Homo sapiens: one gene and its partners. The protein of the gene in region 1 interacts with the protein of each later gene in a pairwise test. Each region holds a gene or a part of one and is shown on either strand. Other genes may lie near its edges.

Region 1 (3,657 bases):
GATTGCACCACTGCATTCCAGCCTAGGAGACAAGAAACACTGTCTCAAAAATGAAAAAAAAAAATGCCCAAAACAATTCAAACCATTAATTAGTTTATCTTTTTTTTCTTGTTTTATTTTATCTGAATGTCCCAAATAGCAGCTATTTCATGACTATTTTCAACTCAAGCTGGAAGGAGGCTCTGTCCCATTTGAATGTTTTCAAATCCTAGATGGAAACACTTGTAGAAAGTACGCTCGATAGCCAGGAAAGCTCTCAGCTGCAGGCTGAACCTGCTGGACTCCCAGCAACTTGGGCAGTGAAAGAAATGGGCTGTGGAATAAATGCATGTAATCGATCTAAGAACCTGGAAAAGGGTAGATTGAAGGAGCCTGTGGAAATTAAGAGCGTTAACCATACTTCCAGTGACTCATCTTGGCTACAGCTGACTTTACCCCAAGCCCAGCAGGTCACCTGGGACAGCCCTGACTTCTCAGATTGTATTAACCACGCTTTTATTTTCTGATGCTTTGATATTTTAGTGTCTTGTGGATCCCAGAGGTATAGTCTCTCCTAGGATTAGCTAATTCCTAGAGGCCTGACTTTTATATGCAAACCAACCAGTCCAGAGCTAATTCCTAGGAGCCTGACTTTCATATGCAAACTAACCAGTCCAGAGCCCACTCCCCAGCAGCCTCCTATATTGGTCCATCACACTTAGGGCTGCCTTCCATCTGTTTTTTTTTTTTTGTCTGAGACAGAGTCTTGCTGTGTGTCCAAGGCTGGAGTGCAGTGGCCTGATCTCGGCTCACTGCAATCCCCACCTCCCGGGTTCATGCAATTCTCCTACCTCAGCCTCTGGAGTAGCTGGGATTACAGGCACACACCACCATGCCCGGCTAATTTTTGTATTTTTAGTAGAGACAGGGTTTCACCATGTTGGCCAGGCCGGTCTCGAACTCCTGACCTCTGGTGATCCACCCGCCTCAGCCTCCCAAAGTGCTGGGATTACAGGTGTGAGCCACTGTGCCCAGCCCTTCCACCTGTATTGATCACCCCAGCACCAGCAGCCAGACAACTAAGGACAGCCCCTACACCCCAGAGCACACTGGAATTATCCACTCTAACCAATCCTAAACCCGTTTACCCTGCCTCCCATGAAACCACAATAAAGGCTGTTGTTTGCCACATTTCCCCTCACTCCCTCCACCTCCTGACCCACCTGGGGCTTCCCCAGGTGCCCCCCACTTTACGGTGTTCTACACCTCTTGGTGTAGAGTGCCCTTTCCTCTTGGGATCAGAGAGTATAAAAATTATCTCGTCAAAGAGAGTTGTCTGCTGATCTATCTGTTGGCCTTATCATACCTAAATAATAAGACATTATATATATGTTGGAGACCGGGCCTTGCTATGTTGCCCAGGCTTGAGTGCAGTGATAGTCACAGGTTCAGCCATAGCTCACTACAGCCTCGAACTCCTGGGCTCAAGTGATCCTCCTGCCTCAGTCTCTGGAGTAGCTGGGACCGAAGGCATATACCACTGTACCCAGCTAATAAGACATATTTTAAAACATGGATGTTGCAATGGGATATGATTGCTTTAGCATCTAATCCCCTCACTCCAACGGCATCCTCTGTCTTTTCCTGGTAAGAAAAAGTGCCGAATGACCACTAGAAGGACCTGAAGTCCAGCAGCGTTTCCTAATCAGGGTTCCTCATCTTAATCACAGAATTCAAAAAATAACTAGAGTGGTGAGTTTCTGGATTGTCTCAAGGACTCCATAACTAGCCCCACTCTCCATGCATGGAGGTTAATTCATTACACACAGCAGAGATCACGGGGAAATGGGGCTTATTTTTTCTAGAGAACGCAGTTGGGAAAGGCCGAGTCTAAGGTCTAGGTGTACCCGAGAACCCTTAATCCTGCCTCATAGAAGCAATTCGTCTTGCCAGGAGATGATGATGGCATCACGGTGTGGTGTCCCATCCCTGTGCCACCCTGGCTAACGTTACCTGGGCTCGGTGCTCCCCGACGGCGAACTGTATCACGGCCACGCCCGGGCTATGGCTGTCTTCAATCCTCTCTACGGTGCTGGAGTCGATCTTCAGGTCGTTGCTTATCTCTGCACTCTGGATGAAATCTTCTGTTTTTAAGTCTTCCACCTTCTTTAGCTCCCCGTTGGCCAACTGGATGATGGAGCCTTTCATGAAGTAGGGAGGCAGCGTAGGGGGAGCCGCCGCCGGGGAGGCCACGGACTGCACCACAGGCAGGTGGATCTGGGCCTGCACCATGGCTGGGTAGGCGGCCTGGGTGACCAGGGCCTCAGGGTTGAAGTTCTCGCTCTTGGGAAGGGCGGTGGTGACGAACGTGTGAGGCACTGCAGCAAACTGGGGGGATGACGTGACTATGGCCGGGGCTGCCCCCGACGCTTCCATGTCAGTGCTGCCGACCGGGATGAGCAGGGGCTGTGTGCCGGGGATCACCAGGTGCTGGGGCAGGCTGCCGGCGTAGGTGATTGCTTGCTGCTGGCCGCTCAGGTAGCCGATGACAGGGGGTTGAGTCCCTGCGTAGAAGGCCGTGGCTGGCAGTCCCACCGGGAGTGGCTCTGAAGCACTGTGTGTGGTCTGAATGACCGTGTGGGGTGAGAGCGCGTAGGACCGGTGGCCAGGCTTCCCTAAATGCAGGCCACTTTTGTCGTTGAGGGTAGAAGGGGAGGCTTCACGATGAGTGGCCTGTTGCACCTCCAGGTCAGCTGCGGGCGTGTTGCTGTTGGGCAGGACCATCACAGAGGCCCGGACCCCCGAAGGATCACGACTGCTGTAGTCTGAGGGGCTCGGGTGGACCACCACGTGCCTGGACTCGTACGGGTGAGGAACCGACTTGCCGCCTGCCTTGCCCAGGCCCAGGTCGGCTGAGGACGGGGCCCCGTACCGCCGGCTCTTCTCCATCTCACCGTTCAGGACCTCCTTGGCCTGGATGGCCTGCTGCAGCCGGCTGCTCTCAGCTTTCTTGGTGGCCTCCCGAGGGACAAAGTGGCTGCCGGAGTCGGCGTATTGCATGACGACCTGGGAGGGGGGCCCCAGGGTGAGCGTGTGTGGGATCATCGTCTGGTGGGGGTGGAGGTGGACGGGGATGGCCGGAGGAGAGGCGGTGCGGCCGGTGTTCTGCGGAGAACTGGAAATGTGGACGTACTGGTTCTGCTGGGCTGGTGGGGGGGACCCCGGGGTGATGAGCCCCGGAGCCCTGCTGAGGTGCTGCTGCTGCTGCTGCTGCTGCTGCTGCTGCTGCTGCTGCTGATGCTGATGCTGCTGCTGCTGCTGCTGCTGCTGCTGCTGCTGCTGCTCAGCCTTGTGTCCCGGCGTCTGGCTCAGACTGCCCATGTTGGCCAGCAGAGTGGAATAGGCCTCCAGCTGGGAGCGCTGGGATGGAGTGGTGGCCCCTGCGGCCGAGGCCACTGCACTGGTGACGGGGTTGGCGGTTGGGGGGATCAGCTGTGATGGGATGAAGCTGGCATAGGTTCCACTGTATTGGGAGGACCCAATGAACTGGAAGGTGTGCGGCAGGTGAGCGTACTGCACGGGGGACACCGGGGTCCCTGGCTGCGGGGTGGCGTACGCGGCAGGCAGCGTGGTGGCCACGGGGACAGACCTGGGAGCGCTGGGCGGGGAGTAGTCCAG
Region 2 (2,435 bases), on another chromosome or scaffold:
CTTGTCAATACATGACAGTCTCTTTCGTTTTCAAGAGAGTAACAGTAATTGGTGCCATATGGGTGGGGGAGTGAGGGAAGAAGAAGCCTTACCTTAAGGACCAGATCCCTGGCATCCATGAGAAGGCTGTGCCCAGCTTTTGTTCCATTCTCCACCAGTACCTGTTCACAAAAGGGGAAAATATGCAGAAGACTTGAATTACACGAAAGTATAAATGTCAGTAGCTGTGTAAGAGCAATCATAGAGGGAGAAGGAGTCCTAAAAAGAAATAGGCATTACATAATCAGGATGGAGACCCTCAAAGAGGGATAAAGAAACCCATGAAGGAGAAAAATGGTGAAGAATAAAGACAATGAGAGGAGCAAAGGCATGAAATCCATGAAGCTGCTTCAAGACTTAAGGAGAACAAGGAATTTTAACTCACCAGGAAATGACCTGTCTTACGCCATAAGGTTTGAACTACCTCAGTGCGGTCAGCCTTGCTGGGCAGTTCACTTAAGGAAAAAGCTGACACTACTACATCAAACTGCACCTGAGGACCAAGACAAGGAACATGACAGACTCAACATCTCTACATCCCAAGAATACAACAAAGTCCTAGCCGCTAAATTTCTTTTATCTTCTAACACTCAGTGCTGGGCTGCAAAGCTCAAGCCATAGTTTTCCATCTGCCACATTCCACATTTAGAATATTCTAAACACTGCCACTTGCCTTGGGTGATACAGGTAGAAACTGTCTGAAAAAGACACCTGGAATATAAGGCTCCCCAGATTCTGAACCACCTGTGGAGAAAAGAAGAGGCAACTGTGAGTGTGTAGGAAGTTAGGTATAAACTGAAGAGATATCCAGATAAGAAACATGGCCCCAAGAATAGGTAAAGTGTATATCAAAAAGGGCAGGGATGAGCCAGGTATGGCGGTGCGTGCCTGTAATCCCAGCTACCCTAGAGGCTGAAGTGGGAGGATGGCTTGAGGCCAGGAGTTTGAGACCAGCCTGGGTAACATATGGAGACCCTACCTCTAATTAAAAAAAAAAAAAAAAGGGCAGGGAGAATATTAGGCCTCCTGTCCTTTGATTCTTACCCAACCCATCCTCAGTCCAGCAGAAACCTCTAATACCACCCTTTGCTTGACTATAACTTTAAAAGTAAACCAGATTCATCTTAATTTTTACCCTCTTCTCTACTTCCCAGTAAAACACTTTTACTAGTACCCCTTTGCTTTCTTAACTCCCTCAACTTTGGAAGTGCTCTTGCACTCACCTTTCAGTAGTTTTTCTGCCAAAACCAACATGGCAGCTGATCTGTCCACACACATATATTCACGTAGGCTCTGGCCCCAAATACTGTGAGCAGCCCTAAGATGGCAAAATTATTATAAATCACCAATTCCCATGACCAAGAGTCATCTCTACAAGAGGCCCATTTACACCCAACCCCACCCCTGGGAAAAGAGAGTGTTATGTTAAAGTAGTTGTATAGTTAGTAATAAAATAACTAATAGTGTTATTTTCTTGTTTTATTTACAACTCCTAAAAAAAAAAAGGTAGACTCAGCTGGGCACAGTGGCTCATGCTTGTAATCCCAGCACTTTGGGAGGCCAAGGTGGGCGGATCACAAGGTCAGGAGTTAGAGACCAGCCTGGCCAATATGGTGAAACCCCGTCTCTACTAAAAATACAAAAATTAGCTGGGTGTGGTGGCGTGCACCTGTAGTCCCAGCTACTCGGGAGGGTGAGGCAGGAGAATCACTTGAACCCAGGAGTGGAGGCTGCAGTGAGCCGAGATTGTGCCACTGCACTCCAGCCTGGGCGACAGAGTGAGACACCGTTTCAAAAAAGAAAAAAAAAAGGTAGACTCAAAATACTATTTGTAGGCAAAAACAACTTTGATTGATAATTCCTTTTCTTTTTAATTTTTCTACACATGCGCCTTTTTTTACTTGACATTTCTTTTAAGTTCTGGCCCCAATCCATATACCTTCTTCTGCCTTGCCTAATCTGATGGAAGAAACATTATAGATTCCCAACTTGCCTATTCTCCCTCTGGTTTTCCAGTCTGTTAATTTTGGAGTGGTGTAAGTATGGCTTTCTAGAGCTAAAATTGACCAAGATAGGGCTGAAGAAAGTTACTCACCAGGTGACAGAACCAGTACCTGAGCCAAAGTCCATCAAAGTTTGTGGCTGAAATGCTGGATTTCGAGCCCGGATCTGAAGAAATATACAACATCCCACAGTAGGGTAATTAGATACTTATTTAGGACCTTGATAAATGTGAATTAGGAGGCTATCACAGAGGATGTGAGATGTGAATGCCTTTTGAGATTCAATACAAATACCTTATGGGATAAGAATCTCCTAAAATAGTGATTCTAAACCTTTCTTGGGTCACAGAAAGCTTTCACAGGATAAAGAGAACGTCTTTATTTTGTGTTTTT
Region 3 (3,657 bases), on another chromosome or scaffold:
TATATATATAAACAATACACACATACACACATACATTTTATACATATGTGAAAACAACAGCCAAAACTTTTTCAAATTTGATGAAAACTACGAACTCACAGACCTAAGCAGCTCAACAAACTCCAAGCACAAGAAACATGAAAAAAACTACAGCAAGGCACATCATAATCAAATCACTTAAAATCAGTGGAGAAAATCTTAAAAGCAGCCAGACAAAAAAAAGGCCCCTTGTGTACAGAGAACCTCAGAAGCAATGCAAGCCAGGAGACAGGAGACCATTTTAAAATACTGAAATGAAGGTGGGGGAGGGGGCGGAAAGGCCTGTCAACTTAGAATTCTATACCCATGAAAGTATCTTCAAAGTGAAGGCAAAATACTTTTTCTTTCTTTCTTTCTTTCTTTTTTAGACAGAGTCTTGCTCTGTTGCCCAGGCTGGAGTACAGTGGTGCAATCTCAGCTCACTACAAGCTCCGCCTCCTGGGTTCACACCATTCTCCTGCCTCAGCCTCCCAAGTAGCTGGGACTACGGGCATCCACCACCATGCCCGGCTAATTTTTTGTATTTTTAGTAGAGACAGTGTTTCACTGTGTTAGCCAGGATGGTCTCGATCTCCTGACCTCGTGATCTGCCCACCTCGGCCTCCCAAAGTGTTGGGATTACAGGCGTAAGCCACCGCGCCCGGCCCAAAATACTTTTTCAGACATAGAAAAGTTGAAAGAATTTATCACCAAAAAGGTCAAAAGTTTAAAAAAAAAAAAGTCACATGAAAACAAAAGTCAAGCAACACAATACTAATATCAAAGTAAATTTCAATGTAAATTTACTTTGTAAATTTCATCTGTAAAATTTTTACAGATGTAAAATTTACATTTTACAGATGTAAATTTCATCTGTAAAAATTTTACAGATGTAAATTTCATCTGTAAAAATCAGGATGAAAGTTTATTGTTAACTGATGAAACCTATAATTCACAATGAAGTTTACTCTGTGAACTTTTATGTGTCAGAGTACAATGTTAGAAAATAAGGCAACAGTAACAGAACTGTAATTGTAGCAGGAAATATAAGTATCCCTCTTTAATTCTTAATAAATCAAGTAGGCAAAGGACAAGAATCTATAGGTTTAGACAGCTATCAATAAAGCTAATTTAATGCAATACCTATATACTCTACAAATAATACTCCTTTTCTACTGTCTGTAGGACATTTACAAAAATGATAATATACGTGGCTACAGAGAACATCAATAAATTCTCCAAAGCGGAAATGCACAGGGCACATTTGATTACATGTGACTATACAATGGATTACACAATATGATAAAACTAGAAATGTAAAAAGTAGAGGGGGAGAAGAGGACAAGGCAATAGGGTAGGAGAAAATTCATAAATTTTATACAAAACTCTGGTATCAAAATTGGCCAACAACAAAAAAAACCCTACAAGCCAATCTCACTTATTAACATAGAAAGAAAAATTATAAATCACATGGCATTCTGGTTTGTATACTTTAATCTCTTGCGGGTTTGGTACATCATAAGTATGATATGTTGAAGACACTGAGTTATTGGTCCAATCACACTAACGGCAAGATCCTAGATTATGGTGAAATTACCATCAGAAAGCCATTTCAGATCTCCCTCGGCTCTCTTTCACTCAAGACTAACCCTGGTGACACACACATCATTACTTGTGCTTCCTTCTATGAGTGACAATGAGTGATGGGAGATAAATCTAGAAAAAGCCGAATGAGACGTCTACATTGGGGCAGCACTGAAAACTTCTAAGTGACGTGCTGTGAGGCATGGTTAAGGAAGGTTGATCTGCTGACGGACTAAAGCAGGAGAAAGTCTGAAGTAGAAGCTAATTATAGGATTTCAATAAGTGTAGTCTAGGTAGTAATAAAAGTAACAGTGGGGCCAGGCATGGTGGCTCACGTCTTTTATCCCAGCATTTTGGGAGGCTGAGGCACGTGGATCACTCGAAGTCAGGAGTTCCAGACCGGCCTGGCCAACATGGTGAAACCCTGTCTCTACTAAAAATACAAAGTTAGCCGGGCGTGGTGGCACACATCTGTTATCCCAGCTATTCGGGAGGCTGAGACAGCAGAACTGCTTGAACCTGGGAGGCGGAGGTTGCAGTGAGCCGAGATCATGCCAAAGCACTCCAGCCTGGGCAACAAGAGCAAAACTACATCTCAAAAAAAAGAAAAAAAAAAAAAGTAACAGTGGGTATGGAAAAGGGGTGGCATTGATGAGACTGACAGAACTGGTCAGCAGGAAGATACAGCAGTAGTACAAGGTACAAATGATACCATCAAGAAAGTGAACACACAACCCACAGAATAGGAGAAATTATTTGCAGATCATGTAACTAATGAGTGACTTGCATCCAGAATACCTCAAGAACTCTTATGACTCAATAATAAAAAGATAAATAACCCAACTGAAAAACAGATAAAGGATCTGAAGAGACATTTCTCCAAAGAAGATATACAAATAACCTATAAGCATATGAAAACCACTCAACATCATTAGTAATTAGAAAAATGCAAATCAAAACTACTAAACATCCCTTTTCACTCACTAAAATGGCTGTCAAAAGACAGACAGACAATAACAGGTGTCGGTGAGGATGTGTAGGTATTATAACCTCCATACATTGCTGGTGGGCATGTAAAATGGTACAGCTACTGTGGAAAGCAGTGTGACAGCACCTCAGGGAGTTAAACATAGAGTTACCACGTTAATTCAACAATTCTCCTAGGTACATACCCAAGAAAAATGAAAACATATGATGTCCACACTAAAACTCGTACATGAATGTTCATAACTGCATTATTCTTAAAAGCCAAAAAGTGAAAACCATCATAAGCTCCATCAACTTATGACTGGATAAACAAACAGGATATATCCTTAGAATAGGATGTTTGGCAATAAAAAAGAACGAAATACTGATAGATGTGACAACACGGCTGGCACTTGAAAACGTTATGCTAAATGAAAGAGGTCGGACACAAAAGGCCGTATCTTGTATGACTCCACTTATATGAAATGTCCAGAATAGACAAATCCATAGAGACAGAAAGTAGATTCGTGGCTACAGGTAGAAGAAATGGGGAGCAACTGCTAACTGGGTTTCTTTGAGGGGAGACAAAAGTTCTAAAATTAGATTGTGGTGATGGGTATACAAATCTGTGAATATACCAAAAAAAAAACCTCTTTATTACTTATGAATTATGTCTCTGTAAAGCTGTTTAAAAAAGAGTAATGTGGCCGGGTGCGGTGGCTCACGCCTGTAATCCCAGCACTTCGGGAGGCCGAGGTGGGTGGATCACAAGGTCGGGAGTTCGAGACCAGCCTGACTAATATGGTGAAACCCCGTCTCTACTAAAAACACAAAAATTAGCTGCGTGTGGTGGTGGGTGCCTGTAGTCCCAGCTACTCGGGAGGCTGAGGCAGAAGAATCACTTGAACCCAGGAGGCGGAGGCTGCAGTGAGCCAAGATTACCCCACTGCACTCCAGCCTGGGCGACAGAGTGAGACTCCATCCCAAAAAAATAGAAATAAATAAAATAAAGAGTAATGCAAGGCAAACTGATGTACCAATGCCGACTTTGAATTTCATGACTGAGTGACTAGGAAAATGTCATCATTA

What was found.
Region 2: the proteins of ATXN1 (region 1) and METTL17 interact in binary tests that used the Homo sapiens proteins (3 or more experiments, as listed by UniProt).
Region 3: the proteins of ATXN1 (region 1) and ZBTB43 interact in binary tests that used the Homo sapiens proteins (3 or more experiments, as listed by UniProt).

Annotation. Positions count from the first base shown.
Region 1 is NC_000006.12:16,324,402-16,328,058, forward strand, and holds part of ATXN1 (ataxin-1), read right to left. Parts: coding exon 1,993-3,657; intron 1-1,992. UniProt on the Homo sapiens protein: Chromatin-binding factor that repress Notch signaling in the absence of Notch intracellular domain by acting as a CBF1 corepressor. Binds to the HEY promoter and might assist, along with NCOR2, RBPJ-mediated repression. Binds RNA in vitro.
Region 2 is NC_000014.9:20,992,891-20,995,325, reverse strand, and holds part of METTL17 (ribosome assembly protein METTL17, mitochondrial isoform 2 precursor), read right to left. Parts: intron 2,209-2,435; coding exon 2,135-2,208; intron 1,358-2,134; coding exon 1,263-1,357; intron 784-1,262; coding exon 713-783; intron 533-712; coding exon 425-532; intron 162-424; coding exon 93-161; intron 1-92. UniProt on the Homo sapiens protein: Mitochondrial ribosome (mitoribosome) assembly factor. Binds at the interface of the head and body domains of the mitochondrial small ribosomal subunit (mt-SSU), occluding the mRNA channel and preventing compaction of the head domain towards the body.
Region 3 is NC_000009.12:126,811,540-126,815,196, reverse strand, and holds part of ZBTB43 (zinc finger and BTB domain-containing protein 43), read right to left. Parts: intron 1-3,657. UniProt on the Homo sapiens protein: May be involved in transcriptional regulation.